6 separate regions of the Homo sapiens genome follow, and regions 2, 3, 4, 5 and 6 are each linked to region 1. Evidence: fine-mapped expression QTL. A gene starts in region 1. Each other region holds a variant in brackets. All regions are shown on one strand. Distances are from middle to middle. Region 1 holds the start of RNF166 (ring finger protein 166). Region 2 holds the start of HSALR1 (HSP90AB1 associated lncRNA 1). Region 3 overlaps ZC3H18 (zinc finger CCCH-type containing 18). Region 4 holds the start of MVD (mevalonate diphosphate decarboxylase). Region 5 overlaps PIEZO1 (piezo type mechanosensitive ion channel component 1 (Er blood group)). Region 6 overlaps ZFPM1 (zinc finger protein, FOG family member 1).

What was found.
Region 2: its variant is fine-mapped to the expression of RNF166 in subcutaneous fat (FUSION, PIP 0.95).
Region 3: its variant is fine-mapped to the expression of RNF166 in whole blood (INTERVAL, PIP 0.97).
Region 4: its variant is fine-mapped to the expression of RNF166 in whole blood (INTERVAL, PIP above 0.99).
Region 5: its variant is fine-mapped to the expression of RNF166 in whole blood (INTERVAL, PIP above 0.99).
Region 6: its variant is fine-mapped to the expression of RNF166 in whole blood (INTERVAL, PIP above 0.99).

Annotation. Positions count from the first base shown.
Region 1 is chr16:88,704,139-88,709,240 of GRCh38, forward strand. RNF166 (ring finger protein 166) reads right to left here and starts at 2,270. Exons shown (of 6, transcript NM_178841.4): 1 at 2,033-2,270. The coding sequence starts at 2,187. It overlaps CTU2 (cytosolic thiouridylase subunit 2), which reads left to right and starts at 2,365. Exons shown (of 15, transcript NM_001012759.3): 1 at 2,365-2,460; 2 at 2,998-3,072. The coding sequence starts at 2,393. RefSeq lists an enhancer at 1,745-2,382 and silencers at 2,004-2,283, 2,324-2,633.
Region 2 is chr16:88,728,573-88,733,572 of GRCh38, forward strand. It overlaps PIEZO1 (piezo type mechanosensitive ion channel component 1 (Er blood group)), which reads right to left. Exons shown (of 51, transcript NM_001142864.4): 19 at 4,706-4,882; 20 at 4,035-4,160; 21 at 3,763-3,963; 22 at 3,134-3,338. It overlaps HSALR1 (HSP90AB1 associated lncRNA 1), which reads left to right and starts at 2,608. Exons shown (of 3, transcript NR_103774.1): 1 at 2,608-2,876. The variant G/A (reference allele first, on the strand shown) is at 2,588.
Region 3 is chr16:88,608,502-88,613,603 of GRCh38, forward strand. It overlaps ZC3H18 (zinc finger CCCH-type containing 18), which reads left to right. Exons shown (of 18, transcript NM_144604.4): 7 at 433-550; 8 at 2,767-3,035. Among named protein-coding and RNA genes, the nearest start is that of IL17C, 28 kb to the right of the region's middle. RefSeq lists an enhancer at 1,644-2,589. The variant CGAGCGG/C (reference allele first, on the strand shown) is at 2,811.
Region 4 is chr16:88,662,597-88,667,698 of GRCh38, forward strand. MVD (mevalonate diphosphate decarboxylase) reads right to left here and starts at 495. Exons shown (of 10, transcript NM_002461.3): 1 at 415-495. The coding sequence starts at 484. It overlaps SNAI3-AS1 (SNAI3 antisense RNA 1), which reads left to right and starts at 777. Exons shown (of 4, transcript NR_024399.1): 1 at 777-804. RefSeq lists silencers at 240-659, 1,000-1,159 and an enhancer at 740-789. The variant A/AAAAAAAG (reference allele first, on the strand shown) is at 1,995.
Region 5 is chr16:88,743,412-88,748,411 of GRCh38, forward strand. All of the region lies in intron 2 of PIEZO1 (piezo type mechanosensitive ion channel component 1 (Er blood group)), which reads right to left. PIEZO1-AS1 (PIEZO1 antisense RNA 1) reads left to right here. Exons shown (of 3, transcript NR_120387.1): 1 at 1-79; 2 at 181-933; 3 at 1,678-2,337. Among named protein-coding and RNA genes, the nearest start is that of PIEZO1-AS1, 3.1 kb to the left of the region's middle. RefSeq lists an enhancer at 453-1,139 and a silencer at 2,157-2,216. The variant C/A (reference allele first, on the strand shown) is at 1,925.
Region 6 is chr16:88,534,930-88,540,031 of GRCh38, forward strand. It overlaps ZFPM1 (zinc finger protein, FOG family member 1), which reads left to right. Exons shown (of 10, transcript NM_153813.3): 10 at 1-2,102. The coding sequence ends at 50. Among named protein-coding and RNA genes, the nearest start is that of ZFPM1-AS1, 6.4 kb to the left of the region's middle. RefSeq lists an enhancer at 4,765-5,102. The variant G/A (reference allele first, on the strand shown) is at 2,410.

The sequences.
Region 1 (5,102 bases):
TGGGGAGCTTGCGGAGGGGACAGAACCAGACCAGCAACAAACTTCCGAAGGGAACCTGAAGAGCCTTTAAACTTTCTGTGGTCATTTGCATGCATGCCTTAGCAACACCAACAAGAAACAAAGTTAGAAGCAGAGAGAGAACAGCCAGAAAACAAAAGCCAGCAGGAAAAGTCGGGGAGAAAAATCTTTGAAAGGCAAAGGCTGTGTGAAAAGCTCTTGCAGGACCCGCGGTGAGACTAGGATGGTCGTCATTCTACCAAGAAAAGCATGGCAGAGGGGAGTTTTATAGGAAAGATGCTCCACAATTCCATGTGGTTCTGCATTCTGTGTTATGGAAACTACATTTTAGGAAAAGACATATTTGAAAAAGAAGGGCAAAGACCAATTTGTGCAGGTTAGGAAAGTGGAGATGCTGTGGCCGACCACACGGTGAAGGTGTTGGCACCCAAAGCCTACGGGAGGCTTTTCTAAAACAAGGCCTAAGTCAAGCCTCACAGCGCTCAGTAACAGATGAGAAGGTGCGGAACACACCTTCAAACACCCGCTACCTGCTCACAAGAAGGAAGTCCTGCCAGGCGCGGTGGCTCACGCCTGTCATCCCAGCACTTTGGGAGGCTGAGACGGGCAGGTCACCGGAGGTCAGGAGTTCGAGACCAGCCTGGCCAACATGGTGAAACCCCTTGTCTACTAAAAATACAGCAATTAGCCGGGCGTGGTGGCGGGTGCCTGTAATCCCAGCTACTCTGGAGGCTGAGGCAGGAGGATCACTTGAACCCAGGAGATGGAGGTTGCGGTGAGCCGAGATGGCGCCACTGCACTCCAGGCTGGGTGACAAGAGCAAGACTCTGTCTCAAAAAAAAATATTCCCGTTCAGAGGCTGCCCCCCCAAAATGTCACGGCTAAGTGAGATGGAGGAGCAGGGGCAGAGCCTGTAGCAGCCTCACAAGAGAAGTAGGTAGAGCTGTCCCAGCGTGGGCAGGCGCCTGTGCTGCCTGACACAGGTAATGAAGGCAGCTCTGCATCCTGACACTGGCCCTGCCACCTCCGTGGGTGACCAGCACACATCCACCTAGCAGTCCCAGCTCCCTCTGTACCAGGAGCCCCTGAAGTCAGCTGACTTTGCTTGCAAAATGTTCTAGAGCCTCCTACCAGTCTGGGTGCACCCCCCTCCACTCCACCACCTCAGCAGCTTGGATGTCTGCGGGGAAGCCCTCCTGCTCTCTCTCTCCCCTGCCACTGCTGATTTTGCTCAAGAGCTGTATTATTCAGCACTTAGGAGGGAGCAGACACTGATCTAGGCTTCCTCCCAACGGGGCTGGCAGCTCCAGAATACTTGAGCACAGCTCCCCGCCAGGAGAGCCACGTCCTCCAGTTTCTGTTCCTGAAACACCCTGGAGGAGCCGGCTGTGAGCCCTGGTGCAGCTGGAAACCCCAGCAAGGTGGTCAGTGTCTGCTCCTCTGTGGACCAGCCTGCCTGGCTACTCAGTGATCGGTGTGACTCAAGTTCTCCTTCAAACAAAACTAAGAACATCAGACTCCAAACAAGCCCCTCTAAACTTTAGGGAACTCCTTTCCTCTGTAGTCAAAACAGGCAGACAGCGGGTCCGAACAAGAGTTGATAGCAAAAACTACAAGTTATTTATTTACAACTGCCCATTCCAGCCGCACAAGCCCAAATCCACCACCACTGGCGGAGCGGTGGCACCTGCTGCCCTCTGAGTACCGGAGCGCCCGCCGCAGCCGCCGGGGACCCCGAGCTTGGGCAGGGCCGCAGGTCGCCCGGTGAACCGAAGCAGCAGTCGGACCGGGCGCCTGCGGCTGGCGCGAAGGAGGCTGGGCGGGGGATGAACGCGCCCAGAGGGCAGAGGCGGCGCGGCACAGGGAAACCCGGACCCCACGCGCCCCGAGGCCCCGGCGCCCCGAGTCCCCGCGCGCCCAGTCCGGAGCTGCACCGGGGCGGCCGCCGGCCTCGCGACCCCTCCCGCGGCGGGGCACGGCCCCCTCCCCGCGGCCCCTGGGCGGGCGCGCTCACGTGTGGCCGCAGCTGCCGATGGCCACGGGCCGGTGATAGACCTCCAGGCAGATGGGGCAGGTGTACTGCGCCTCCAGGCCGCTGTCGCCGCCCGCCGGCCCGGCCGGCGGCTGCCGCTGCTGAGCCGAGGCCACCAGGCTGCGGAACATAGCCATCCCGGGGCCAGGCCCGCGCCGCCCGCCGCCCGCTGTCCTGGCCCGGGCCGGCCCGCTAGTCACAGCCGCTACTGCGCCGCGCTGACGTCATCGTAGGGCGCCGCCCCCAGCCGGGCTTCGCGGCCGTCACGGCGCCACTCCGACGTCATCGGGGCGCGCCCTCGCGCTGTCGCCGCCACAGTCTGCGACGGGACCCGGCGTGCCCATGTGTCAGGTGGGCGAGGACTACGGGGAGCCGGCGCCTGAGGAGCCGCCCCCGGCGCCGCGGCCCAGGTAAGAGCTGGCGGCCGGACCCGCCAGGCCGCCCCTCGCCTTCCCGCCGCACTCCTGCCCCGAAGGGTCCCGGCCGGGCTTGCTCCGGGAAGCCCCGCGTGGAGAGCGGGACCTCGCTCCCTAGCACTCGGGGAATGCCTGTCAAGCGGTGACGGCCACCTAGAAGGGGACTTACTCCACTGGCTCGCGCCTCTCATCCTAGCAGCCACTGGGGACGGCTCTGCCGCTGACAGTGCTGTCCTTATTCGGAGAGAACTGGTGCCGTGAAGCTGTCTCGCCTCCCCGTGTCAGCCTTGGGAGACTGAAAAGCGGCCTTTATGTGCCCCCTGAGCCGGCTTTTCTAGGCTAAACATCCCCCCAGAGCCTTTGTTTTTCTTGAAGTTTGGACAGAACACAAGCCTGGGTTTGTGTGTGTACCGAGGTGCCTTTCTCTGACCCAACTCAGGGTGAGAAACAGGAGCTGTCTCCCCAAAGCCCACTAGGCGTGGGGAAGATGTGATCTGTGTTTCTCTCTTCTCCCCCCTCCCATCTCCAAAGCCGTGAGCAGAAGTGTGTGAAGTGCAAGGAAGCGCAGCCCGTTGTGGTGATACGAGCCGGAGATGCCTTCTGCAGGTGAGGCCTGGAGGTGGCTGAGACCCTGGCAAACATGGCCTCGCTAGCAGACAGGATAGCCGCAACTTGTGATGCTTTGTTAATTCTTTTTAAAAACATGTACTTACTTTATTCCTGCTCCTGATGGGGTCCCTCGTGCCCCTGGTGTTGAAGTGGAGGCGAAAGCATTGGTTTCCTGCTTGGGAAAGTTTCCCATGAGCTAGCCACAGATCCCCTGATGAGGTTTCTGATGGAACTTATGGGGACAGTTGGAAGTGGGGCCGTGGTGTCTAGACTGGGATAAGCTGTAGGAGGACCAGGCGTTTGGGGGCAGCTGGAATACATCTAGGGGCGGATCAGAGCATCTTGGGAACTTGGCAGATGGTCTGGGTGAAAGTTTTTAATCTCGTGTGAGATGCTTGTTTCATCTGTGGCAGGATAGAGGCTTGGAAGACCTCTAGCTTTCCCCCAGGCGCTTGTCATGTCTTTCTTGGCTTGTAGCCATTGTATTGTTCAGTTGTTTCCACTAGACTCATAGCTCCCTGAAGGGAGGACCAGGTCTCTCTCCTTTTAGCCCTCTTAATTCCCAGTGGTGGTGCGTGGTTTTTTTGTTGTTGTTGTTGTTTTTTTTGAGATGGAGTCTCCCTCTGTCACCCAGGCTGGAGTGCAACAGCTGGAGTGCATGATCCCAGCTCACTGCAACCTTTACCTCCTGGGTTCAAGTGATTCTCCTGCCTCAGCCTCCTGAGTAGCTGGGATTACAGGTGCCTGCCATCATGCCCGGCCAATTGTTTTTGTATTTTTAGTAGAGACAGGGTTTCACCATGTTGGCCAGGCTGGTTTCGAACTCCTGACCTCAAGTGATCCACCTGCCTCGGCCTCCCAAAGTGCTGGGATTACAGGCATGAGCCACCACACCTGGCCAAGATAGGTACTTCTTTAACCACCCAGGAGCATCTGAAATTGCCAAGAACACCAGGCTGCCGGCAGAATTCACTGAGGAGAGGCTGCTGTGGCTGTATGCTAGGCCCTTGTGGCCAGAAGGGCTTTTGCTGTGCTTGCTGGTCCCAAGGAACAGTGGGGAGCCGGCTCTCTAGGGGAAGGCCTTAGGAATCTACATCGAGCTGGGATCCCCAGGGATCATTCAGGTCAGCACGTGGGAGAAACCTTGGCCTTCCCTGACCCACAGGGGACAGCGTGGTTTCAGGAGCCCAGACGCAGCATGTACACGTGGACCCACCACGCTTGAATCCCAGCTGGTGGTGTAGGGCGCAGAGGCTCTCCTGGTCCACAGTGCGGAGGTGAAGCCCAGCACCTGTGTCTCCTTGTATGAGACTCCCCACGCCCAAAGCTGGGTCCTGGGGGTCACTTCCCATGTCCCAGCCTTGATACTTGCCAGTTACCTGCAGTCCCTCACCTGGCATCTTGCTGTTAAACACAGACTTGCTTTACTGTCTGTAAAGGAACCACAGGGGGGTCATTCGGCCTCTTGTACGTGGTATCCATTCAACGTAGGGAGGGACTGCTGTGCACATCAAGTGTGTCTGACAGGAAGGAAGAGACTTAGAGCCCCAGGTGCAGGGTGACTCTTGCAGTGGCATTGTCCGCTCTGTACCGGGTGCTGCTCTTCACCCTGCCTGCCAGGATTGCAGGAGAGCTTTAAAATGCAGACTCCTAGGCCTCACCCCTAGACAATTTGACTTAATTGGTTTGTGCAATTCTAACATACAGCCAGGGCCAAGAACCCCTGACGTAGTGAGCCAGAGTCAGATGGCTGGAAAGTTTATTATGAACAAAGATTACAGCTGGGCGCAGTGGCTCATACCTGGAATCTCAGCACTCTGGGAGGCCCAGGCAGGAGGGTCACTTAAGGCCAGGAGTTTGAGACCAGTCTGGGCAACAAAGTGAGACCTTGTCTCTACAAAAAATACAACAATTAGCTAGGCATGGTGGCATATATCTGTAACCTGTAGTCCTATCTACCTGGGTGGCTGAGGCAGAAGGATCACATGAATCGAGGAGTTTGAGGCTGCAGTGAGCTATAACTGTGG
Region 2 (5,000 bases), 24 kb after region 1:
TGTTGGGGAACCCAGGACATGCTGATCTCACAGCCCCATCTGCCACAGAGGGAACCTCGCGACACAAAAACAAAGTGACCCTCGATGCTGGGGAACCCAGGACATTCTGAACTCACAGCCCCATCTGCCACAGAGGGAACCTCGCGACACAAAAACAAAGTGACCCTCCATGCTGGGGAACCCAGGACATGCTGAACTCACAGCCCCATCTGCCACAGAGGGAACCTCGCGACACAAAAACAAAGTGACCCTCCATGCTGGGGAACCCAGGACATGCTGAACTCACAGCCCCATCTGCCACAGAGGGAACCTTGCGACACAAAAACAAAGTGACCCTCCATGCTGGGGAACCCAGGACATGCTGAACTCACAGCCCCATCTGCCACAGAGGGAACCTCGCGACCCAAAAACAAAGTGACCCTCGATGTTGGGGAACCCAGGACATGCTGAACCCACAGCCCCATCTGCCACAGAGGGAACCTCGTGACCCAAAAACAAAGTGACCCTCGATGCTGGGGAACCCAGGACATGCTGAACCCACAGCCCCATCTGCCACAGAGGGAACCTCGCGACCCAAAAACAAAGTGACCCTCGATGCTGGGGAACCCAGGACATTCTGAACCCACAGCCCCATCTGCCACAGAGGGAACCTCGCGACCCAAAAACAAAGTGACCCTCGATGCTGGGGAACCCAGGACATGCTGAACCCACAGCCCCATCTGCCACAGAGGGAACCTCGCGACCCAAAAACAAAGTGACCCTCGATGCTGGGGAACCCAGGACATGCTGAACCCACAGCCCCATCTGCCACAGAGGGAACCTCGCGACCCAAAAACAAAGTGACCCTCGATGTTGGGGAACCCAGGACATGCTGATCTCACAGCCCCATCTGCCACAGAGGGAACCTCGCGACACAAAAACAAAGTGACCCTCGATGCTGGGGAACCCAGGACATGCTGAACCCACAGCCCCATCTGCCACAGAGGGAACCTCGTGACCCAAAAACAAAGTGACCCTCGATGCTGGGGAACCCAGGACATTCTGAACCCACAGCCCCCATCTGCCACAGAGGGAACCTCGCGACCCAAAAACAAAGTGACCCTCGATGCTGGGGAACCCAGGACATGCTGAACCCACAGCCCCATCTGCCACAGAGGGAACCTCGCGACACAAAAACAAAGTGACCCTCGATGCTGGGGAACCCAGGACATGCTGAACCCACAGCCCCATCTGCCACAGAGGGAACCTCGCGACCCAAAAACAAAGTGACCCTCGATGCTGGGGAACCCAGGACATGCTGAACCCACAGCCCCATCTGCCACAGAGGGAACCTCACGATACAAAAACAAAGTTACCCTCGATGTTGGGGAACCCAGGACATGCTGATCTCACAGGATGGCGACTGCATGGCGCAGCCGCGTGGAAGGAGGCAGAAGAAGGGGAGCTGGCCTAGGTGACGCTTGATAGCAGGTATTTCAACAAGGAAGAGGTGGACAGGAGACGGGGAGCTGGCCTCGGTGATGCTCGAAAGCAGATGTTTCAACAAGGAAGAGCTGGAGGGCCCAGAGGCTGAGGCAGCCCTGTAGCAACAGGCACACCCAGCGCCCAGACCCCGGGCTCTAAACCTCACGCTCCTAGAACTCGATTGGGCTCCCTGGAGCAATGGCTGTGAGCACAAGGCTGGGCCTGGGTAGCAGAAGATGAGGCAGCAGCGCCTGGGAGCAGAAAACAAGACGGGGCCGGGCGTGGCAGCTCACGCCTGTAATCCCAGGAGGGAGGCCTGTAATTTGGGAGGCGGGTGGATCACCTGAGGTCAGGAGTTCAAGACCAGCCTGGCCAAGATGGTGAAACCCCGTCTCTACTAAAAATACAAAAATTAGCCGGGCCTGGTGGTGCTTGCCTGTAATCCTAGCCACGAGGGAGGCTGAGACAGGAGAATTGCTTGAACCCGGGAGGCGGAGGCTGCAGTGAGCCGAGATTGTGCCAGTGTACTCCAGCCTGGGTGACAGAGCAAGACTCCATCTCAAAAAAAAAAAAAAAAAAAAAAAGGGTTCTTGCTATGTTGACCAGAGTGGTTTCAAACTCCTGGCCTCAAGGGATGCTCCTGCCTCAGCCTCCCAAAGTGCTGGCATCACAGGCGTGAACCACCATGCCCAGCCAAATACGGGGAGATGATGTAACAGTGTGTGGCCGGAGGGGCCAGGACCCACTCAGCAGAGGGGAGGCCCAGGGTCTGCGGATGACAGAATTCTTGGAAAGCAGCCAGTAACAAATGGCAGCTGTCCTTGATGGGAATCCCAGCTGACAGACACACAGAGACAGCAGAGAGAAAGTCTGTTTCGTAAAACCACAAGGCTGACCCCACACAGCCCACCAGTGCCAACAGGCTGGGTGCCACTGTGGGGCAGGTGGGACGCCCCTGAGCCGGCCACGTGCACAAATGTGACTCCCCATCTCAGACCGCAGGGTGCTGTGTGCCTTGAGCAGACCTGCAGCACCAGGACAGCCACGCAAATCCAGTCTCACGGCGTCAGCAACGCTACCGGCCTCCCTCCGGAACTTCCCAAGAGACAGGAGAGGCGGGGGC[G/A]GCTTAGACCCAAGACAAGAGACTAGAGCAAACATCAGACCAGATCCCGTCTGAAAACCAAATGGCCACAAAGAAGGGTGCTGAGGCCGGGGCTGTTTGAATGCAGAGGACACGTTTGACGATGGCACTGCCAGGAGACGGGACCACGGGTGTGGGGCTGTGGGCTCAGACACCCTCACCCAGGAGACGCATGCTCGAGGCAGCACTTGGGTGTGAGGCATCACGGCCGACCCGCACGGGGCCCGGAGAGGACGCAGTGCTCCTTGTGTGACTCACAACTTTCCTGAAGGTTTGAAATATTTCAAGATAGAATACTGGGCAAAAAAGGAAAAGAGAACAGCAGAGCCTGGAGGGGGCCAGGCCGCCCCCGAGAGACAGGATGCAGGTGATGGCGCCTGGGTAGGATGTGGAGCAGAGAGGAGGGACTGGAGGAGGCCAAGGCTAAGTCTAGGAGGGTGGACAGGAGTCTGGGGCAGGCGGGAAACACCCCCACGGGCATCCACAAAGCCACAAAGCCCACTCCCACCCAAGCCACGTGCCCCTCACCAATGCACAGGGCCGGGGGCATCCCCAGGCACAGCAGGTACTGGTACAGCAGGAACAGCGCCAGGAAGAGGCAGTAGTTGGGCCAGAGGCGGGCAATGGCCTGGCGGTGCCTGCGGGTGAGGATGGCCACCAGCCAGCAACCGTGCAGGGTCACCAGAAAGTTCATGCGCTGCCCGATCACGTTCACGGCCATCAGGAAGCAGATCTGGGGAGGGGAGAGGGCGGGGTGTGGGGATGCACTGAGTCTGGGGGGAGGGACTTTCTTGTCCCACCCAGCAGGCCTCAGGCTTGCAGCAGCCCTGCCTGGAGGCTGCGGGCATCAAGCAAGGACAGGGCCAGCGGCGCTGTCAAGAGGGCAGGAGTGGCTGGCAGTTGCCATCGTGCAGGGGAAACTGAGGCTCCAGGAGGTGGGCTGTACAGTAGAGCAGATCTAACTTGGCCCCCTGCCTGTTGTCAGCACCGACACACCACAGGAGTCCAGGGAAGCCGTGCCTGGCCCTGAGTCCCCCACCCTCTGTGGCCCAGGCAAACCCAGGTGGGGCCAGGCTTGCGGTGCCTGCACGGTGCAGCCGTCCCTCCCTCCCGAAGGCCAAGCCCTGCCCCAGGGGGAGGCAATGTCCTTGCCTCACCTCCAGCCCGAATTTGTAGAAGAAGAAGTTGATGAAGTACTTGAGGCAGCCGAGCAGATCCTGGTCCAGCTGCTGGCGGGTGCCGCTGGCAAACACGGCCTGGGCAGGCAGCGGGGCCAGCTGGTGCTGCCGGCGGTAGTGCTCCTGGCGCCGGTACACGATGGCCTCGAATACCAGCAGCAGCAGCACTTGCAGGTGGTTCTGCGGAGGGCAAGGGTCAGGGGGCAGCCGGGTACTCGCCCGCCCAGCCGCCCACCAGCCCTTCAACTCACCTGGATGTAGCCCAGGTTGGGGAACCCTTTCCGCACCCCAAACCAGTTGGCAGGGTCCACGGGCCCCCGGTACAGCAGGGACTGGCTGATCTCCGTGGGCAGCAAGTTGGTGCTGTTGGGGAAGGGCTGGCAAGAGGCCAGGCATCAGTGCCCCCTCCCAGGCCACAGTGCCCCCTGGCCCTGCCCGGAGCCCACCACAGCCACAGCTCTGGGGCAGGTCCACTGCTCCCCAGCCAGGGACACGGGGGCTGCCAGCCTTGGAGCCACCTTCACGGGGAAGGGGACCAGGTGTTTGAGAAACAGGGAGACCACGGGCAGGGGCTGGGGGAGTGAAGAGAGGTCCAGGGAGAAGGAGGGATGTGCGAGAAGGTCCCAGGCAGAGATGCCTGACTGTCTCTCCCTGTCCAGGGGTGGGGCCCTCCCGTCCTCACTGCCGGAGACCCTGGGACTCCGCCCCTACTGGACACCCTTGTGTGCAGGGAGTGCGCCCCTGGTCCACAGTTGAGGTCGAAGGATGCTGCCTCCAGGAAGCCCCCTTGGCGCCCCCAGGGGAGAGTCCTCCATCTCCATTGCTGGCCCCACTGCACTGAGGCAGCTGCCCCAGGAGGGTCGGGCTGCGAATACAGAGTTGCCTGGAGCTTCCTCCCGTCCCAGCCCTCGGGGGCCGGTACCTCGGTGCAGTTGCTGGAATACTCCTGGGGGTTGACAACCTTGAGCTGGTACAGCATCTTACACACGATGATGACGCAGGTCCACACGGTGGACAGGCAGGAGGCCATGGGCCGGAAGCGTGGGTAGGGCAGGGCGAAGGCCCACAGCACCACCAGCAGCAGGTTCATCACCGACACCTGAGGGCAGTGGGCACGTGGGGCTGGGCTTGGGGAGGGCAGTGGGCACGTGGGGCTGGGCTTGGGGAGGCCAGCTGGGCAGGCCAGAGCGACCCCACCCCAGATGGGAAGCTGAGTT
Region 3 (5,102 bases), 96 kb before region 1:
TACAGGCATGTGCCACCACGCCCAACTAATTTTGTATTTTTAGTAGAGAAGGGGTTTCTCCATGTTGGTCAGGCTGCTCTCAAACTCCTGACCTCAGGTGATCCACCTGCCTCGGCCTCCCACGGTGCTGGGATTACAGGCATGAGCCACCACACCTGGCCCTCACTTCCTATTTTCTTGAGTATTTTTTATCAAAAAGGCTATTGAATTTTTGTTAGACATTTTTATCATCTGTGAATAGAACCCTTTGACTTCTGGCCTGCTCTTAGATGTAGTTTGTGAACAGATTTCCTAACCTTGAGCCAACCTTGCGCTCCTGGAGTAAACCCCACTGCGTCACGGTCTGTTACTTTCTGTCCCTAATGTTTCGTGTGGTCTTTTTACGCCAGTGCTCCTAAGTGATGAGAGTTCTTTTTCATTGGCCCTTTTCAGACTCGAGCCTTACGCAGACCCTTATTATGACTATGAAATTGAGCGGTTTTGGCGTGGCGGACAGTATGAGAATTTCAGGGTGCAGTATACAGAAACAGAGCCGTATCATAATTACCGAGTAAGTATGACTTCAATATCCACATATGAACTTCATGATCTGTTCATTCAAGTTATCCCTTTTTATTTACAGTAAAAAATACAGGGCTTTATATGAGCTTATAGAGCCAGCACAATGTACCAATTTGAAAACCAAATTGATTGTTACGGAGAACGAATTCAGAGGCAGCGATTACATTAATGGTCATTTGAACAAAGACTTGCCTGAAAACTGGTTCTTGCTATGGTTTTGTTTTTTTGTGTGGTGTTTGTTTGTTTGTTTTTTGAGATAGGGTCCCACTCTGTCACCCAGGCTGGAGTGCAGCGGTGCAATCTCGGCTCACTGCAACCTCTACCTCCTGGGTTCAAATGATTCTCCATCCTCAGCCTCCCGAGTAGCTGGGACCACACGCATGCACCACCATGCCCAGCTAATTTTTTTGTATTTTTTTTGTAGAGACGGGGTTTTACCATGTTGTCCAGGCTGGTTTTGAACTCCTGAGCTCAAGCAATCCGCCTGCTTTAGCCTCCCAGAGTGCTGGGATTAAAGACATGAGCCACTGCGCCCGGCCTGGGTTGTTTGTTTTGGAGACGGAGTTTAACTCTGTCACCCAGGCTGGAGTTCAGTGGCGTGATCTCACCTCACTGCAACCTCTGCCTCCCAGATTCAAGCAATTCTCCTGCCTCAGCCTCCTGAGTAGCTGGGATTACAGGTGCCCACCATCACACCTGGCTAATTTTTTGTATTTTTAGTAGAGACAGGGTTTTGCCGTGTTGGTCAGGCTGGTCTCAAACTTCCGATCTCAGGTGATCTGCCTATCTCAGCCTCCCAAAGTGCTGGGATTACAGGCATAAGTCACTGTGCCCAGCTCGGCCTGGTTTTGAAAATGAGATTTGCCAGTATACTTACTGATGCCTGTGTCCAGGGGTGCCTGCGTCTCCCTGCTCGGGCGTGTCACTCTTCCCCACCCCTCAGTGATCCCGTTTAGGATGTGGCGCCTGTTCTGGTCCACTTCAGCCAGCTTGTTAAGTCTGTTCCGGGCCTGCTGCACCTCACTGCTCTCATGGAAGACTGGTCTATACTGAGATTTCCGCCCTGGAAATCTCCCTGGTCTGAGCCTCAGAGTTTAGCATATTGATGAGTTATGTGCTTCAGACTGTGAGTTCCTCATCTTAGCTGTTAGGGTGATTTGACGAAGTTGCCCCAGGGAAGGGTCAGTTAGAAGCTGCTGTGTAGTTCTGTTCTGTGACTGCAGGGACAGTCATGAGCTTTGAGGACCAGGTGCGGCTGTCTCCTCAGGAGCCCATCAGGGTGAGCTTGCAGAGGGAAGAGGGCCCCATCGTGCCAGAAAAGTCCCCCTGCTCGATGCTCTTGTGCCCCGTCTCTCCATAAAGCAGCTTCCTCATTGCAGGTGGGCTGCAGGGTCCTGCTGCTTACCCCTGGGCAGGGTACCCTGGAAGGTGGGAGAAAGCCCCAGGGATCCCTTTCCACTGCGTTCCTCTCTGCTGTGTCCGAGGGAGGGGCAGCAGGGAGGCTCGGGGTGCACCCTGCATCTCCCCAACAGAGGCCTCAAGCCTGAAACCCATCAGGTGCGTTGTGATTGGACTTTATTCAGTTTTAACCTTGAATATTAGAGCAAATGAATGAGTAAGAGCAGAGGAAAAGTTGGAAAGGGCATCCGAGGATTGTACTAGAAGAAGAGGAGCAGTCTTTTGGGTGCCTGCTCTGCTCCAGAGGCAGGGCATGTGCTCTGCTGTGGCTGCACCTACCTGGGACAAGCCTGGAACTCCCGTCTCTGGATGGACAAATGGACTTGCCCAGGCCACACGGCGGAAGGCCATCTGTGCCAACGACACCGGGCTGTGACTGCAGAATTGCTGCCCTGAGTTAGTCTAGAATTGGTGGTTGGGATGATTTCACTCCTAGTTTGTGTTTGCTCTAATTTGGCATCTGACCCGGTTTTTAACATTGTGTTTTAAGGAGAGAGCTGGGAATGAGATGAGATCCCCACTTGAGGGTGCTCCCTGATCCTGCCTCTCTCTTGCCATCTCCTCTGTACTCCACCGCAGAGAGTTCAATCATAGTCGGGAGCACTTGGCGTTTTGTGTGTAGGTTTGTGGGGTACAGGTGTGATTCTGTGACACAGACAGATCGCGTGGTGTTGGAGCCAAGGCTTTCAGTGCCTCTGTCACCCAAATAACGCACGGTGTCCCCATGTGTTTGGCTTTTTAACAAAGGAAAGGGAGCGGGAGCGAGAGAGAGAGAACAGACAGCGCGAGCG[CGAGCGG/C]GAGCGGGAGCGGGACCGAGAGCGGGAGCGCCGGCAGAGGGAGCGCGAGCGAGAGCGGGAGCGCGAGCGCGACAAGGAGCGGCAGCGGAGGAAGGAGGAGTGGGAGCGTGAGCGAGCCAAGCGGGACGAGAAGGACCGGCAGCACCGTGACCGCGACCGGGAGAAGGAGCGGGAGAAGGAGAAGGGGAAGCCCAAGCCCCGCTCCCCGCAGCCGCCAAGGTAGACCCTGCTTCCTGAAGCCCAGGGGTGTGGGGGAGGTCCGGCATGCAGCTCTGTACCTAGTCCCCCTGGCCTGCGCTTCCCCTCTGTGGCCCACAGCTCTGGAGCCCAGGGGACCAGTGCAGGCCCACAGCCCGAGCCCATAGTTCCAAACCCAGAGCTCTCCAACGCAGGGCCTTTCTGTAAAACTCCCAAGGCCGTGACATCTGCCCTGAGCTCCTGGGAGGCTGTTCTCATTCTAGAGGATCTCACTGATGTGAAAATGCTTACAGTCCACGTGCAAACATCGGTGTGTTTTAATAGGCGCTGCCCTTGTATACCACGCACGGTGTGTAACTCACACCCTGGGCACCATGTTACTGTTCTCAGGAGAGTTCTGAATTCCAAAGCATGCCTGGCCCCCAGAGCTTGGGACTGGGCTCAGGTGCTGTGGGGCATCCGTGTTGCTGGCCAGGGTGAGGCACTCTAGCAGCCAGCATGCAGGGGAGGGCCGGGCGGGCTGCTGTTTTTCCTTTGCGGAGTGGGTGCCTTGGGTGCAGAATGATCCTTGCTGCCAACTGCTGGGGGCACAGTCAAGACCCATGAGACAGGCAGGCGCTGGGGCTCAGGACAGCCCTTTTTTTCTCTCAAATATACTTGACTGTTAGAGCAGAATGGATGGGCGTCAGTGGACATTAGAGTACTGGATGATGTTTTTGGTGGGTGTTTTTTACAACTTTATTGAAATATAATTAATGGACGCTGCAACATACCCATTTAAAGTGTACAATCAGTGGTTTCTAGAATATTCACAGAGTTGTGCAGCCATCATCGCAATCAACATGAGAGCACTTTTGCCCCCTAAAGTGAAACCTTGCGGTGGCTCACACTTGCACCCTGCACTTTGGGAGGCTGAGGCAGGTGGATTGCTTGAAGCCAGGAGTTTGAGACCAGCCTGGGTAGCAAAGCAAGACTCCATCTCTATTTAAAAAAAAAAAAAAAAAATTAAAAATTAGCTGGGGGAGGTGGCATGAGCCTGTGGTCCCAGCTACTCGGGAGGCCAAGGCAGGAGGATTACAGGATCGCCCAGGTGTTGGAGGCTGCCATGAGCTACAATCGCACGGCTGCACTCCAGCCTGGATGACAAAGTGAGACCCTGTATCTAAAAAAAAAAAAAAATTAAAAATTGTTTTAAAAAAATCTAGGCTGGGCACGGTGGCTCACTCTTGTAATCTCAGCACTTTGGGCGGCCGGGATGGACAGATTGCTTGAGCTCAGGAATTGAGATCAGCCTGGGCAACATGGCAAAATCCCGTCTCTACAAAAAAATACAAAATATTAGCAGGGCGTGGTAGTGCACCACTGTGGTCCCAGCTACTCGGGAGGCTAATACGGGAGGATCACTTAAGCCCAGAAGGTTGAGGTTGCAGTGAGCTGAGATTGCACCACTGCACTCTAGCCTGGGTAATAGAGCAAGATTCTGTCTCAAAATAAAAAGAAGAAACATTGTACCCATCAGCAGTCACTCTCCATTTTCCCCACACTTCCCAGTCTCTTAGCAGCTTTGTGTCTCTAGGTATCTGCCCATTCAGAACGTTTTGTAGAAACGGAAGTGTGCAATACACAGCGTTTTGTAACTGGCCTCTTCTACTCCGAGCGTTTTTAACATTTGTCCACGTTGTAGCGTGGGTCAGTGCTTTATTCCTCCATGGATGCACCGCATTGCATTTCTCTGTTCGTCTGTTGATGGACGTTGGGTTGTTTCCAGCTTTTGGCTGTTGTGGTTGTGAATTTGTGTGCAAGTTTTTGTGTGGACATAGGTTTCCATTTTTCTTGAGCATATACCTCAGTGTGGAATTGCTAGATCACATGGTCACTCTATGTTTAGCTGTTTGAGAAACCCTCAAACTGTTGTGCAGAGCAGCTGCACCTTTTACATTCCCGCTAGCCGCATAGGAGGGCGCCATCTCTCTGCATCCTTGTCTGCACTTGCTGCGGTCCGTCTTGTTGATGACAGCCGTCTTGGTGGGTGTGACGTCTCCCTGCCGTTGCGATTTGTATTTCTCTGATGATGGATGATAATGAGAG
Region 4 (5,102 bases), 42 kb before region 1:
AGTGGCGCGATTTCCGCTCACTGCAGCCTCGACCTCCCGGGCTCTGGCCATCCTCCCGCCTCAGCCTCCCGAGTAGCTGGAGCCACAAACGCGCACCACCACGGCGGATTCTTACGATTCATGGGAATCGATGATTGATGATTTCGATAGTTCGGTAATCGCTAATGGGCAGGCGCCGGGCGACCCTGCAGGGGCGGCAGCCGTCGCGGGGGAACGGGTGGCGCCGAGCTTGTCACGCGAAGGAGCGCGCGGCCCCGCCCGACCACCGCCGCGCCCCTCCCTGAGCCTCAGTTTCCCCGTCTGTCGAGGCCCTGGGAGGGCAGGACGGAGCGCGCCGCCGAATCAGCGCGCGACCCCCGCGTACCCGGCCTCGCTCCCGGCCATCCCCGTCCCAGGCCGGCCCGCGGCACTCACAGTACTTGATGACCGCGATGTTGACCGGCGCTGTACAAGTGACTGCCGCCAGCGGCTTCTCCGAGGCCATGGTCCCACCGCGCAGTGACCCCAGCTCCACAGCCACTTACGGCCCGCGATCCCACCCCAGAGGCCTCTGCCTCCTCACGCGCTACCACAGGATTGGCCCGTGCGAGCCCGGCTGCTCGCGCGCCGACCAATCAGCGGCGAGTCGGGCGCACGCATTACCTCTCAGCCAATGGACGGGATCGGACGATGGGTTGCTGACGTAGGTCCGCCCCACCCGCAGGGTGCGCTCGCCAGGCCTGGGGCGTGGTGTTGTCTGCGCAGGCGCCGTGTGCCCAGGCGCCTGGCGTCCGCGTCGGCGATCCGGGGTCTGGGCGCGGCGAGGTGGGCGCTGTTGCCTGTGGGGGCTACCTGTCTGCTGGTGCTGTGCGGGCTTGTGCGGGGCTGTGCGGCAGCTGTGTGGGGCCCGTGAGGAGCTGTGCGGGGGGCTGTGCGAAGGGCTGTGTGAGGCGCTGTGCTGGGGGCTGTGCGGAGACCTTGAGGCGCTGTGCGGGGTCCGTGAGGCTCTGTGTGGGGCGCCGTGTGGGAGACTCTGCGGGGGCCGTAAAGGGTCCGTGAGGCGCTGTGTGCGGGTTGTGAGGCGCTGTGCGGGGACCATGAAGGGGCCGTGGGGCGCTGTGCGGGTGCCGTGGGGCGCTGTGTGGGAGGGAGGCTGTGCGGGGCCGTGGGACGGTGTGCGGGGCTGAGGGGAGGGCGGGTCGCGCTGTGCCCTCCTTGAAGCTCTTGGACGGCCCCGCTGGGTATGGGGGTGCACACAGGCCCGAGGGCAGGCGCTGGAGGATGTATCCCGGGATCCACTCTTAACCCGGCAGCCGAAGGCACCCTGTCCCGCCGCCCACAGCCTTCTCCGCGCCATGTCCTGGGCCAGGATCCCCCGCCACGGGGCTCACACGAAAGACCCCGGGGCGGGGAAGCCCCGCAGCCCGGAGCTGGGTCCAACCTGCATTAAGGTGGGCGTCTCAAATACCCCCTGTAAGGCCCTGTAGGAGCAAAGCCTTGGACTGGGTTGCGGCGCTTGTGTGTGCATTGACTTCTCCTGTGAAACGTACAGGAACATTTAAGCGTGCCGTTCCCTGCCATTCATTCCAATCATGTGCCACGCCCCCACTATTTCTAGAGTTTTCTCACCCCAAACAGAAACTCTGTCCCCTTAAAACAATGACTTCCCATTTTCCCCTTCCCCTTTTAAAATTTTACCTTTAGTTTTTAAATAGCTCAGATTGGCTGGGCATGGTGGCTCACACCTGTAATCCCAGCACTTTGGGAGGCCGAGGTGGGCGGATCACGAGGTCAGGAGTTTGAGACCAGCCTGGCCAACATGGTGAAACCCTGTCTCTACTAAAAATACAATAATTAGGTGGGCGTGTGGTGCACGCCTGTAATCCCAGCTACTGGGGAGGCTGAGGCAGGACAATTGCTTGAACTCAGGAGGCGGAAGTTGCAGTGAGCCGAGATGGTGCTGCTGTACTCCAGCCAGGGTGACAGAGCAAGACTCCATCTCAAAAAAAAAAAAA[A/AAAAAAAG]AAAAAAAAAAAACTCAGATTTCGGAAAATAGGGGAGTATGCAGTGTGAAGTGTCCACTCTGCCTAGCCACCTACTTCTATTACCAGAACCATCATACTTATAAATTCTTTATTTTTTTCCAGAAATAGAAAAAAAGTCTGTTTTTTTTCTCACTCTGTTGCTCAGGCTGGAGGGCAGTGGTACGATCAAAGCTCCATGCAGCCTCGACCTCCTGGCTCAAGGGATCTTCCCACCTCAGTTTCCTCAGTAGTTGGGACTACAGGTACACACCACCATGCCCGGCTAATTTTTTTCTTAATTTTTTTGTAGAGATGTGGGGGGGTCTTGCTATGTTGCCCAGGCTGATTTGAAGTCCTGGCCTCAGGGAACCCTCCCATCTCAGTCTTCCAAAGTACTGGGATTAGGTGTGAGCCACTCCACCTGGCCTGTCAATTCTTTGTGTATTTTTTCATTGACGTGCATAGTACAAGCACATAGCGTGTTCTCCCACCTTGCTTTTTCTACGTACCTTCTTCTTAGAGATCATCCCAATTTAGTAAAAAGCTTCCTTGTTTGTTGTCTAAATATACCTGGTCTGTCCTAGTTGGGTTGTTACTATAAACAGTGCTTTCCTACGTTGTTTGTGCACATGTATTTCTGCAGGAGAAATTCCTGGAAGTGGAATTGCTGGGCCAAGTGGGATGTGCCTGAGTACTTTTGATAGCTGTTGGCAAGTCGCCCTTTGTGGAAGTCAATTGATTACTCAGGTCTCTCTGCGGAAGTCTGAGAGTGCCTGCATGCCTTCACCAGCACAGTGGGTCACCTGCCAGAGTGACATGTGTTGTCTCACTGTTTTCAATTTGCATTTCAGATGGTGGTTATTTTTAATTTCTCTTGCAATCACAGCTGCTTTTCCATTTTATGCAAAGCCACTAAATCCTATTGAAGAGCTGATGTGGACTGTCTCGGCCTATAGTCAGGGTGTATTCCCTCAGCTACTCAGAGAGAGTGGGGCTTCCAGTCACCTCCTTCCTTCTGCCACGGCTGTGATGAAAAAGAAGACACAGGCTTGGTGCTTTGGGAGGCCAAGGAGGGCAGATTGTTTAAGTCCAGTAGAAAAAAAAACAATTTATTTTTGTTTAGAGACAGGGTCTCACTCTGTTGTCCAGGCTGGAGTGCGATGGCACCATCAGCTCACAGCAGCCTCAACCTCCTGGGCTCAGGTGATCCTCCCACTTCAGCCTCCCAAGTAGCTGTGATAAGTGCCACCACTCCTGACTAATTTTTATTTTTTATTTTGTAGAGATGGAGGTCTTACTGTGTTGCCCAGGCTGCTCTTTTTTTTTTTTTTAGACAGAGTCTCGCTGTGTCACCCAGGCTGGAGTGCAGGGGGGCAATCATAGCTCACTGCAACTTCTGCCTCCTGGTTTCAAGTGATTCTCATGCCTCAGCCTCCCAAGTAGCTGGGATTACAAGCGTGCACCAGCAGGCCCGGCAAATTTTTGTATTTTTAGTAGAGACGGGGTTTCGCCATGTTTGGCCAGGCTGGTCTCAGACTCCTTGCCTCAAGTGATACGCCTGCCTCGGCCTCCCAAAGCACTGGGATTACAGGCGTGAGCCACCATGCCTGGCGTTTTTATTATTATTATTTTTTTTTTTTTTTTTGAGACAGAGTCTCGGTCTGTCACCCAGGCTGGAGTGCAGTGGCGTGATCTCGGCTCACTGCAACCTCCGCCTCCCACGTTCACGCCATTCTCCTGCCTCAGCCTCCCAAGTAGCTGGGACTACAGGCGCCCACCACCACGACCGGCTACTTTTTTTTGTTATTTTTAGTAGAGACGGGGTTTCACTGTGTTAGCCAGGATGGTCTCGATCTCCTGACCTTGTGATCCGCCCGCCTCAGCCTCCCAAAGTGCTGCGATTGCAGGCGTGAGCCACTGTGCCTGGCCCTATTTTTTTAAGTTTTAGATAACCTCTATTGATTATGACTCAATAGAAATAAGGAATTCTCTTCCATCTCCCAGTCACATACCTTCTTATCCTATCCCTCCATCAGCATTCCTTATTTTCATTATTACAATTATCTAAGTTATACTCACAGTTGAGCCATGTAGCAATGGGTGCCGACAGTGTGCTTGTGGGCAGACTCCCTTATTGAGTGGAGAACTAGGATAAACTACCTCCCTGAAAGATGTCACACATCGATCCCCACCCTGACGCCTGTAGCCCAGCTCTCCTGAACCTCAGCCTGTATGTGTGTCGAAAATAGGCCAAGCATGGTGGTCCATGCCTGTAAGCCCAGCAGCACTTTGGGATTTGGGAGGACTGCTTGAGGCCTGGAGTTCAAGACCAGTCTGGGCAACATAGCGAGACTCCACCATATCCACAAAAAAAAAATTTTTTTTTTTTTTTTTTTTAAGACACAGTCTTGTTCCATTGCCCAGGCTGGAGTGCAGTGGTGCAATCTCGGCTCACTGCAACCTCCGCCTCCCAGGCTCACTGCAACGTCCGCCTCCCAGGCTCACTGCAACCTCCGCCTCCCAGGCTCAAGTGATTCTCCTGCCTCAGCCTCCCAAGTAGTTGGGACTCCAGGTGTGTACCACCACACCCAGCTAATTTTTTTGTATTTTTAGTAGAGACGGGGTTTCACCATGTTAGCCAGGATGGTCATGGTCTCGATCTCCTGACCTCGTGATCCACCCGCCTAGGCCTCCCAAAGTGCTGGGATTACAGACATGAGCCACCGCATCCAGCCTACAAAAAAATTTTTTCAAAATTAGCTGGCCGTAGTGGTGCACACCTGTACTCCCAGCTACTAGAGAGGCTAAAGCAGGATGATCGCTTGAGCCCAGGAGTTCAAAGCTTCAGTGAGCTCTGATCACACCACCGCACCTGAGCCACAGGCATGGGTGCTTTGCTGAGTATGGTATGGGTAGGCTGTGTGTGGCACTGATTCATGAGGGGAGAGGGTCTGGGAGATGAATGGGAAGCCAGACAGCTGGAGCCCGTGGGTGGGCCCTGACTGGTGTTGGGGCAAGGAGGGGAAGCCCAGCCAGGGCTGAGCATGTCCTGCCTGGTTCCAGGCCTGCAGCCCTGGGGGTTTGGCCTGGACAGGCCAGCAGAGGGGC
Region 5 (5,000 bases), 39 kb after region 1:
CACCACCAGCCACGCCCGGCCACGAGAAAGTGCAGAACAGCTCAGGCCCTTCTCACAACTTCCTGGAGCTCAGGGACAGGTAGCATCTGGGTCTGGGTCCAAGGTGGTGAATGTCACCACCACATCTGCCCTCTCTCGGCCTCGGGGCGCAAACTCAGGGCCTGTGTCCACTCTGTTCAGTTTTTTGAGCACAAATGGTGTTAGGTGACAGACTCGGGATTGGCCTTGGACACTCAGCCCCCTCTTTCTGGAGCAAAGACTCATGACCCACGTCCAAGTCACCCTGCACATCCCTAAGCCTGACCGTGAAGCAGCCCTCACGGATGCCCAGGACTCCCTGTCCGCACCACCAGGCAGCCGAGGCAGGTTTGGACCAGCTTCTCACACTCACACCTTCCTAGGGTTGCCCCAGGCCCTGACCTGCTGACCCTGCAGCTATGACCTCTGACCTGTGGAGGATGGGAGGGGTGAGCAGCAGGGAGAGTGGGAAGGAGGAATGGAAAACCGTCCAGGAAGGGAGGCTGCAGCCCCGACACGAACAGGAGCCACCACCAGGGGGTGCTGTGCAGGGCTCCCGGAGGACAGGACCTTCCAGGGCCTCCCTGCCCCGAACCCATAGGTGCCAGGCTTCTCACTGCTCACGACCTCCGTGCCGGGCTCATACCTGCCGCGCCAGCCCCTCTTCAGCAGAGCACAAGTCTGGCAGCAGGAGGGCACCAGCCAGGGGCCCCGCGCCCCCGCCTCTGTACAGCAGGGTCACCGTGGGGTGACATGAGAACACCGACCCAGGGAATGGGCTCCTGCCACACCTGCCTGGGAACCTGGGCTGTGAGTCCTGCTCGCTGCACCCTCTAGCCTGACGTTGAAGTAACCTCGCCAGCGGGGCCCTCTGTGGCACTGGGCACTCAGGGAGAGCACGTGGCATTGGAGAAGGTATTCTGAGTCCTACAGAGAGGGACCTGCGGGGCCTGCCCCACAGGCACGTGGGGCTCCTGCTGGGGCTGTCAAGGACCCCCGGGCACTGAGAGGACATCTGGGCCCTTGGGCAGCCAGGCTGACGGGTTCCCTGCACACACGATCCAGCAGCCCGGGAAGGAACTGCCTGACCAGAGACCCCTGGGCAGGGAGGGGCTCTCAGGCCACCTGGCTCCCGCCCACCCGCCTTGCCCTGCACGACAGTCCAGGATGTCCGTCTCTGGCTACATCTCGGATGTCACTGCTTCCCCATTGTCTTCCTCCCTCCCCTTTCCCTGCCTCCTTCCCGGTTCAGTTCTCGGGCCGGCCAGAGTGTCCTGGTCTGGCCATGTTAGAACAGCTGGGCCATGATCCCTCCGCAGGGTCGAAGGGGCCGCAGCTGGGCCTGGAGGCCACTCCTGGCCACGTGGCACGCCCGCTCCCTGCCTGGGCTGGATCAGACTAGGGAGCTGAGAGTCCGAGGGGCACCCCGGGAAGAGACGCTGCTGGAGATGGGAGGGGGCCGGAACGTGCAGAGGGATCGAGGCTCTGCTGACCTGCACGGGGCGGGGAGCGGGGAGGTGCACACAGAGGCCGAGGGGGCACCCTGACACCGGCCCTCTTCTCCGACGCAAACAGCATGACCTCAAGGGGTCGGGTGGCTTTCTCGTGCCTCCACCTGCAGCCCCTGTCCCCGCCCACCCCGTCACTCTCCCCCTGCAGGTCCCACCCCCAAATGCAAAGCTGGGAAAACCAGGCTGAGCCGGGGATCAGGCCACCTCCGCAGGGACCCACTGCTGCCTCTTCCAGGAGCCCAGGAGACCCAGTGGGTCTCCTGCCCCCGACTCCAACTCCCTCCTGGCAGGACACACCCAGCTCACAGTGGCCTTTCCATCCTGGGAAAGGGAGTGAGAGGAGGCTCAGGCCAGGGACCCGCCCAGCTCTGGCCGGCAACCGCCCTTCAGCCTTT[C/A]CTGAACCACTGTGTGGGCCCCAACCCATCCGCTGCCTGCCGGAGGGAGCCCATGGGGAATGGACTATTCTTGCCACCCCTATCCATGGCAGGGGAGGGGCTCAGCATGGCTCTTGCCCACCCAGAAGAAGGTGCAGGGGGCCTGGCGTGGTGGTTCACACCTTTGGGAGGCCGAGGTGGGTGGATCACCTCAGGTCAGGAGTTTGAGACCAGCCTGGCCAACATGGTGAAACCCTGTTTCTACTGAAAATACAAAAATTAGCCAGGCGTGGTGATGGGCACCTGTAATCTCAGCTACTCAGGAGGCTGAGGCAGGAGAATCACTTTCACTTAAACCCAGGAGGCGGAGGTTGCAGTGAGTTGAGATCGCGCCACTGCACTCCAGCCTGGGCAACAGAACAAGACTCCGTCTCAAAAAAAAAAAAAAAAAAAGGGGCCGGGGCTCCCCCTCCAGCTTGCAGGGCTCTCAGGAGGAAACAGGAAGGGGCGGGGAGGCCCCAGGGTATTGCAGACCGGATGGTTGACAGAGCATGGACCTCCCCCAGAGCCGGAGCCCTTGGACCCCGGCACGGCCTGCAAAGGCTGAGGGGCCCCACCACGGCAGCATCCTGATGCGTGGTCCATAGCCACCATCCCCACACCTGCCGGACAAGGGCTGGGCCTGATTGTTCTGTGGGGAGTGTGGAGTTGCCCTGAGTCTGATCCGTGGGGTGTGCATGGGAGCCCCCTGGAACCTGATCCATGGGGTGTGCATGGGACCAGCCAAGGGACCCAGGGTGCCTTGAGGCTGAGCCATGAGGCCCACCCAGCGACAGCTAGGGCTGAGCTGCGGGGTAGGGCCACGAGAGGGGCCTTTTGAGACAGAGGATGGAGACTACACAAGGCTGGCAGAGCCGGGGGACCAGTGAAGCTGGAGAGGGTGGCAGGGCCTCCCTGCACGGGGCATGGTAAGAGGTGGGGGGTGATCTCTCTCCAGACAGCAGGGTCAGTCTTGGAGGTGGGTTTTATCCTAAGGCAGGATGGGGCTTCTGAGTCCCTAAATGACAAGCAGGTCTCTGGGAGCCACCCCCTGTGGCTCTGCCTGCAGCCCTGCCTGGAGCACCAGGGTCTGTTCCCTCTGCCCCAGCCCCAGCCCCTACCCCTCTCCTCCCTGTTCAGTCTGAGCTCAACCTCCAGCCCCCCAAGGATCAGGCTGACGCCTACAAGGGGACCAAGGCTCAGATGGCGTCAGAGCTTCCACCAGGGCCACGCCAAGCCCAGCAGCTGCACAAATCATAAAGCCCCGGGCACTCGGCTCGGGCAAGCCTCACACTTTCCTCTCTCCCTCCCGGAAAACTGGGCAGCATCTCCGTCTCTGAAGGGCCTCTGACGAGGCTCAGGCAGGGAAGTCCTCCCGGGTCCTCTCCAAATCTTCCCACCCCAGCTCCTCCCCTGGCCTGGCTGGGCGCCTGCCTTCCCCCACTGCTGATTAAAGGAAAGTGTTTCCAATTGCGCCCTGGGCATGAAATATTTACGGAACAAACGGCGAAACGCCAGGGGCCTGGGAACAGACAGAACCGGCTCCACAGAGCAAAGGGGAGGCCCAGGATAGGGACCGGGAGTGGGGGTGCCCACCCACCCCAGCCATGCATCCTGGAGGGGTTTGGGCCTCGGGCCCCAGCGACTCCCAGCACTCGGCCGCACTGGGCCCCTCCCAAAATGCCTCTCTGCACCCCTGAATTCTACCCATGATCCAAGATCAGTGCCTGCGCTGGGCACAGTGACTCACACCTGTAATCTCAGCACTTTGGTAGGCTAAGGCAGGAGGATCGCTTGAGCCCAGGAGGTGGAGGCTGCAGTGAGCCATGATCATGCCACTGCTCTCCAGCCTGGGCAACCAAGCAAGACCCCCACTCGAAAAAAAAAAAAAAAGCCAAGCACGGTAGCTCATGCCTGTAGTCTCGGCCGAGGTGGGCAGATCACCTGAGGTCAGGAGTTCAAGACCAGCCTGGCCAACATGGTAAAACCCCTGTCTCTACAAAAACACAAAAATTAGCCAGGCATGATGGTGGGCGCCTGTAATCCCAGCTACTCGGGAGGCCGAGGCGGGAGAATCGCTTGAACCCGCGAGGCGGAGGTTGCAGTGAGCCCAGATCGTGCCATTGCACTCCAGCCTGGGTGACAGAGTGAGACTCCATCTCAAAAAAAATAAATAAAAAAGACCATTGCCCACCCCACAGCACCACGAGCTAGGAGGAGCCTCTGGGATGCTTCCAGCCAGATGTCGCGAGGCCGGAGAGCGACCTTCCACCTGCAGCTGGCAGAACGATGGACCCCAATGATGCCTGCACCCCAGTCCCCAGAATCTGTGAACGCAGAAGCTCACATGCAGAGGCGAGTCCAGGCAGCAGAGGAAATGGGGGCTGCCCAACAGCTGACCTTAAACCAGGGAAGTCGGCCTGGATTAGCCGGGGAGGCAGATGGGACGAAGCCACAGGGTTACCGCAGGGGAGAGGGAGCAGGAGAGACAGGGTGTGATCCTGACCCCACCCCACCGGCTCTGGAGATGGAGGGAGGGGCCCCAAGCCCAGGAAGGTAGGCACCTGGAGCAGCTGGAAGAGGAAGCAGATCCTCCCCAGAGTCCCCTGGAAAAACGCAGCCCGGTGGACACCTCGTAGCCATGGACAGGCCCCGACGCTGCCAGCCTGATGCGTCCAGCACCTCCCAGAAGGGCGGCACCCAAGAGCCTGTCTCCACAGTCACGCCCCCTGGTCCTGCTTGGCCTCCTCTCTGCCCTCTGCTGGGGAAGGTCTCTTGCTGCCTACACTTGCCCTCCCTGGGGACCTTCCTTCCTTTCAGTGGCTCTTCACCCTCCAAACCCAAAGACCAGCGGAGGGCCCGGCCCCACCCACGTTTGGCCCATGGCCTTTGGGGACAGGTCTCTGAGTGTTTGCTCCAAAACGCGCTCTCCTAAAACGTGGGCACAAAATGGACATGGCCCCCACAGGGCAGGTAGGTGACATGTCACAGGATGGAGGGTTTGCTGCTACCCTCGTCACCCAGGCTGCAGGCTTGGCACGTGGCCTCACCGCCCTCT
Region 6 (5,102 bases), 170 kb before region 1:
CCCACAAGAAGTATTACTGCTCCTCGCACGCCGCCGAGCACGTGAAGTGAGCGCCCACACTACAGCCGCAGACGCTTTGCACGCCCCGCTGCGATGCGGGGAGGGGGCCGCCCCCAGGCCGCACGGACTGCCGCTCCTGGGAACCCCGCCACGCACAGGCCTCGGCGGAGGGGGCCGCAGGGGGCAGCGCCCGCCTGGACCCTTGGCACTTAATAAAGAAGTTCAGTTTGATGAGCATGGTGGTGGGCCAGCCTAGTTCTCTGAGCCAGCAGGCACACGCAGCCAGTGTCACATCCAGCCCTGCTGTGTACACAGGCCACTGCGGCCCGGAGTGGCTGGGCCCCTGCCGGAGTTACACCACTGGGTGCTAAGAGCTAGACCGAGCGTCAGGTCGGAGGCCACAGCACACACTGAACCACTGCAGGGCCAGCCGCTCTGGGCCTACCCCACCCCAGCCCTGTCCATACCCCCCTAGGGAGAGCAGCCTCCACACTGCTGACCCTCTCCACGGTCTACTTGGCCGCCAGACACGGAAGAGAGGGGCACTGACCTGGCTGGCCATCCCCCAACCCTGCATGGTCCTGGGGGTCCGATGTCCCCCATCCAGTCACAGACCACCAGGGATGGCAGGGGTGGGGGCGCCCTGGGGAGGATGAAGCCCTGTGGTGGCCAAGGCTGGGGGAAGAACAGGCGAGTAGGTGGACAGGAGAGGGAGACCGAGGCCGAAGCATTCCCTGGCCTCGAGGGGGTCCTGATGCTCACTGGTGGGTGCATCTCTCCCTCAGAGCCAGGGCTGAGGACAACCGTGTGGTGGAGTCACCTGTGGTGGCTGAGTCGGTGCAAGGGTCAGGGCACCCCCACCCCCCGTCTTCCCTGCCCTGCTGGGCTGTATGGGCCGGCCACACTGAGGGAGTACTTGGCTGACCGCGTTCAGCCACGGTGTCACCGTGCCGTTTGCAGCTGGGTGGCTGTGGGCAGCCTCCAGCGTGCTTTCTCACTGGAGAACAAAAACACTCTTCTATTCCCAACGTCACTTTATTTTTTTATTTTTGGGTCTCACTCTCTTGCCCAGGCTGGAGTCCCTGGGATACTCACGGCTCATTGCAGCCTTGACCTCGTGAGCTCAAGTGATCTTCCCACCTCAGTTTCCTCAGTAGCTGGGGCTACAGGTGTACACCACCATGCCCAGCTAGTTTTTGTGTTTTTTGTAGAAATGGTGTCTCCCTATGTTGCCCAGGCTGGGCAACCCTATATTTTTTAGAGCTAAGGTCTTGTTCGGTTCCCCAGGCTGAAGTTCAGTGGCACGATCATAAGTCACTGCAGCCTCAAACTCCTGAGCTGAAACCATCTTCCTGCCTCAGCCTCCCAAGTAGCTGGGACTACAGGCTTGACCCACCACACCTGGCTAACTTTTAAAACATTTTTATAGAGACAGGGTCTTCCTGTGTTGCCCAAGATGGTCTCAAACTCCTGACCTCCAGTGCTCCTGCAGCCTCAGCCTCCCAGAACATTAGGATGACAGGCGCGAGCTACCATTCCCAGCCCATTTCCAACTCTACTTGAACTAGCTGCATTTTTTTCAGCTTTGCCCAGCAGCCCTGGTGAGTGCAGGCAAAGAAGGCAGCGGCCTCTTGCCTCAGAAGCCCGAGGCACTTCCCAGCCAGTCCAGGGCTCGCTCTCCTGCCCGCAGCTCGTGGGCCTGGGTCTGCAGCGCTTTCAGTGGTCTCTGATGTCTTTGTCCACCTGCCCACTAGGGTCTGGCCAGATGGGGCCCGTAGCCAAGGCCAATGGACAGACATGGCTTCCACCCCCTCCCAGGGACCTGAGCTCCAGGGAAGGCAAGCAGCCTTTTCCTCACAGACACCCCTTCTGTTGAAGACCAGGTGATAGCGGGGACGGGAGGCACGGACCCCTCAAGTCTGCTCATCATTTGCATTGTTGTGCATGAATTTGCGTGGAGGGTTCAGGAGGCTCTGCCCCCAAGTCCTCCCCAGGTGCGGGCGCAGGGTACAAGATGTTCTAAAAAATAGAAACCTGGTGGGGGGTTGTCACTGTGTGTACATTTAAAAGTAAACTGTTTAAAGGTGTCTAGAAACTACGAATACAGTCTCTGGTGAGTGACAGGTGCTCAAAGGGGGTAAAAAACACAACTCCAGTGTCCTCACCCCCTTTGAGCCCCACCCCAAACCTGACCAAGCGAGGCCCTGGAATGCAAGACGCAGAGGAGAATCTGGAAGACAGCCCAGCAGTGCCGCACAAACCCGCCATGCACCCAGACGTGCCTCAGTGTCCACACCTGTGCCGCAGGAGTGGGAGTTCGGGCCTGGCAACCCTTCCTGGGGGCTCATCTCAGAGGCAGCAAGGACCCTGTGACCGGGACCCAGACCTGAAGTCACCCCAGAGGGCCCC[G/A]CCACGGCCCGGACTCGAAGCTTAGGGCAGCACACTGAGCCTCACGAAGGGCCCTGCGCCTGTCCTGGCTTGCATAACCCCCTACTGTCCCCACCATGCAGGGCTGGGTACCGCTGCCATCGCCCGTCCCAGGTCATTGGCGTGTGGCCAGAGCCCGTCCCCATCGCACCCAGGACTCGCCTCGGGCACGCGTCTTCTGCACAGACCCTGGGGCCCCCACACCTGGCAGACGCCATCAGTCACCCCTACTCCCTCAAGCCATCACCCCAGTCTCCCCCCACCAGACCACCGCCTGGGCCTCCACCCTGTGCCTCCCCTGTAGCCGCTGACTCGGTGGTGGCCCAGGCCTTCTCCCGCCTCTCCCCAGGAAGCTGCCTGCCCTGCTCACAGACACCCCCTCGGCCCCCCAGCTGGTTCTCTGCTGAGCCAGGTTCAAGGCTCTGAGTCTGCCCTGGTCTCCCCTTGAAGTTCTCCCTCCACACTCCTGGGGTGGGCTCATGGTCTTCTCTCCACTAATTCTGTAGTCTAGCCACGCCTCCCCTGAGCCCCAGACCTGCAGACCTACAGCCCCTGTGTCCTTCCAGGCCCTTGATGTACCATGAGTGACTGTAACCCCACGCACCTGTAACTTCTGCCCACACCTGTGCAGGTGTTCCCCTCCCCCAAGCCCACCTGTCTCCCCACACCAGTGCAAGCACCCCCCTGGCTCACTGTCTCCTCCCCTCACCTGCACAGGCATCACCCCGAGCCCACCTGTCTCCCCACCAGCCCACCTGTCTCCTCCCCTCACCTGCATAGGCATCCTCAGTGGCCCCCTGCCCCTCAAGCTGGAGAGCATCAGCCTTGCCTATTCACCCTTCATTGTCAAAGCAATGCTTGATTTGTCCAAATCCCACCGCTTCCCAAACCCATCCACCATCGCCGACTCCCAGACCTGGGACTTCACCCTTGAGTCTCTCTGAACAGCCGCTTCCAAATCTCGAGGGTCCACTCCTCACACAGCTGCCACCGCTCCCCTCTCCCAGGCTCACCCTGCTCTGAGGCCCGTCCCCGCCCCCAGGTGCCTGTGCTTCGCGTAAAACCCCTTCTGTTACTGGCCCCATCCTTCAGAGGTCAGAAGTCCCCCTTCTCTGCCTCAGCACAGAGGAGAGGAGCCTCCCGTTGGCGGCCTGTCCCGACGGCAGCCCCTGGCCCTGCTAAGCCCACCACCCGCTGGGCTCCATGCTGCAGCTGGTTGCTCCAGGCAGTGCCTCCTGATGCCCTCTCTACTCCTCCGAGGCTGTCCTTGTCATCCAGCTCTCAGCTTAGGTGCCCCCTCAGACCTGTCCCTGGCTCACTTCCCGCGTAGGAACGGTCACTCTGCACCTCTGTCCCCAGCTCGCTCCCGTGTAGGAATGGTCACTCTGCACCTCTGTCCCCAGCTCACTCCCACGTAGGAACGGTCACTCTGCATCTCTGTCCTCTTGCCCGTCGCCTACTGGCCTGTCTCCTTTGAAAGCTGGGGCTGCGCCTGCTTGACCTCTGCCTCCCAGGCACCCACAAGTGGCCGACACAGAGGAGGGGTCTGCATCTGTTGAAGTCACAGGGGTGTGTGTGGACCACAGCCAGCCCCTCCCCATGCCCAGCAGTCAGTCCAACTGTCACAGCCCACTTTCCAGCCACACTGTCCACTCATGGCACACGGCCACCGTCACAGCCCACTCTCCAATCACACTGTCCACTGAGTCCCATGTGTGACCTGAGCTTCTTGGATCTCGGACCGCTGCATTCCAAGCTGCTCTCTCCCCACTCCTCCCCCCTCCCCACTCCCCCCAGCTTTGCCTGTGAAACTCCTTCTCTCCTCAAGACTGGCTTAAAAGGTCCCCCTCAGGGCCACCCAGCCAGGCTGTACCCGTCCCCTGCCCTGCACAGGATGGGCCTCCCGCCTCCACCCTCCTTCTTCCAGGAGGGCACCTGCTCCCTTCTACCTGAGCTGCATACAGCTCAAAGCCCCTTGCAGGCTGGCAACTCCCAGGCAGGGTCAGCCCAGCCTGCCGGGAGTCCCTCACGCTACTTGGGACACAACGTCCACGAGATGATGCAGGGCAGCCTCGCCCTCCTGAGGCCCCTTCCTCTGCCAGGCACAGGGTCTGTCCTCTCAGCCACACCATGGGCTGAGTGCCCTGACTGTGCACGAGGGCCCCAAGGTTCCATCGGGACACACCTCCTGCCCAGGCACCTGGCGGGCACAGCTGGGCCAGGACACATCCCTCTGCTGGCTTCCAGCACTCGGTTCTCGACCACCAGCCGTACTGCTGGGCACTGGCTCCCAGCCACGCCCTGGCTTACAGAAAGCTCAGGCCTAGCAGAAGCCCACCCCAGCCTGCCTGAGGAAGGGTGGGAGTGGAGAGGGCCCCCACTGCCGGCCCTGTCTCCCACACCAGGACACCAACATGCAGAGCAGGACATCACCTGTGGCTGGGGGGCTGCGTGAGCTGGCAACCGTCGGATGGGTCTGCTCTGAAAACCGGTCCCCACCTGTCCCCCGCAAGCCGACCCCTCGGGAGAGCCCAGCTTTGGAGTCTCAGGCAGAGCCTCAGGACGCCAGGAGGCAGCAAAGCCGTTGCACTCTGGCCTGCCCTGTATCTGCCGGGGCCTTGCAGAGGGGGAGGGAGGAAGATTGGGAGGAGGCAGCCTCACCCCCTCAACACCCA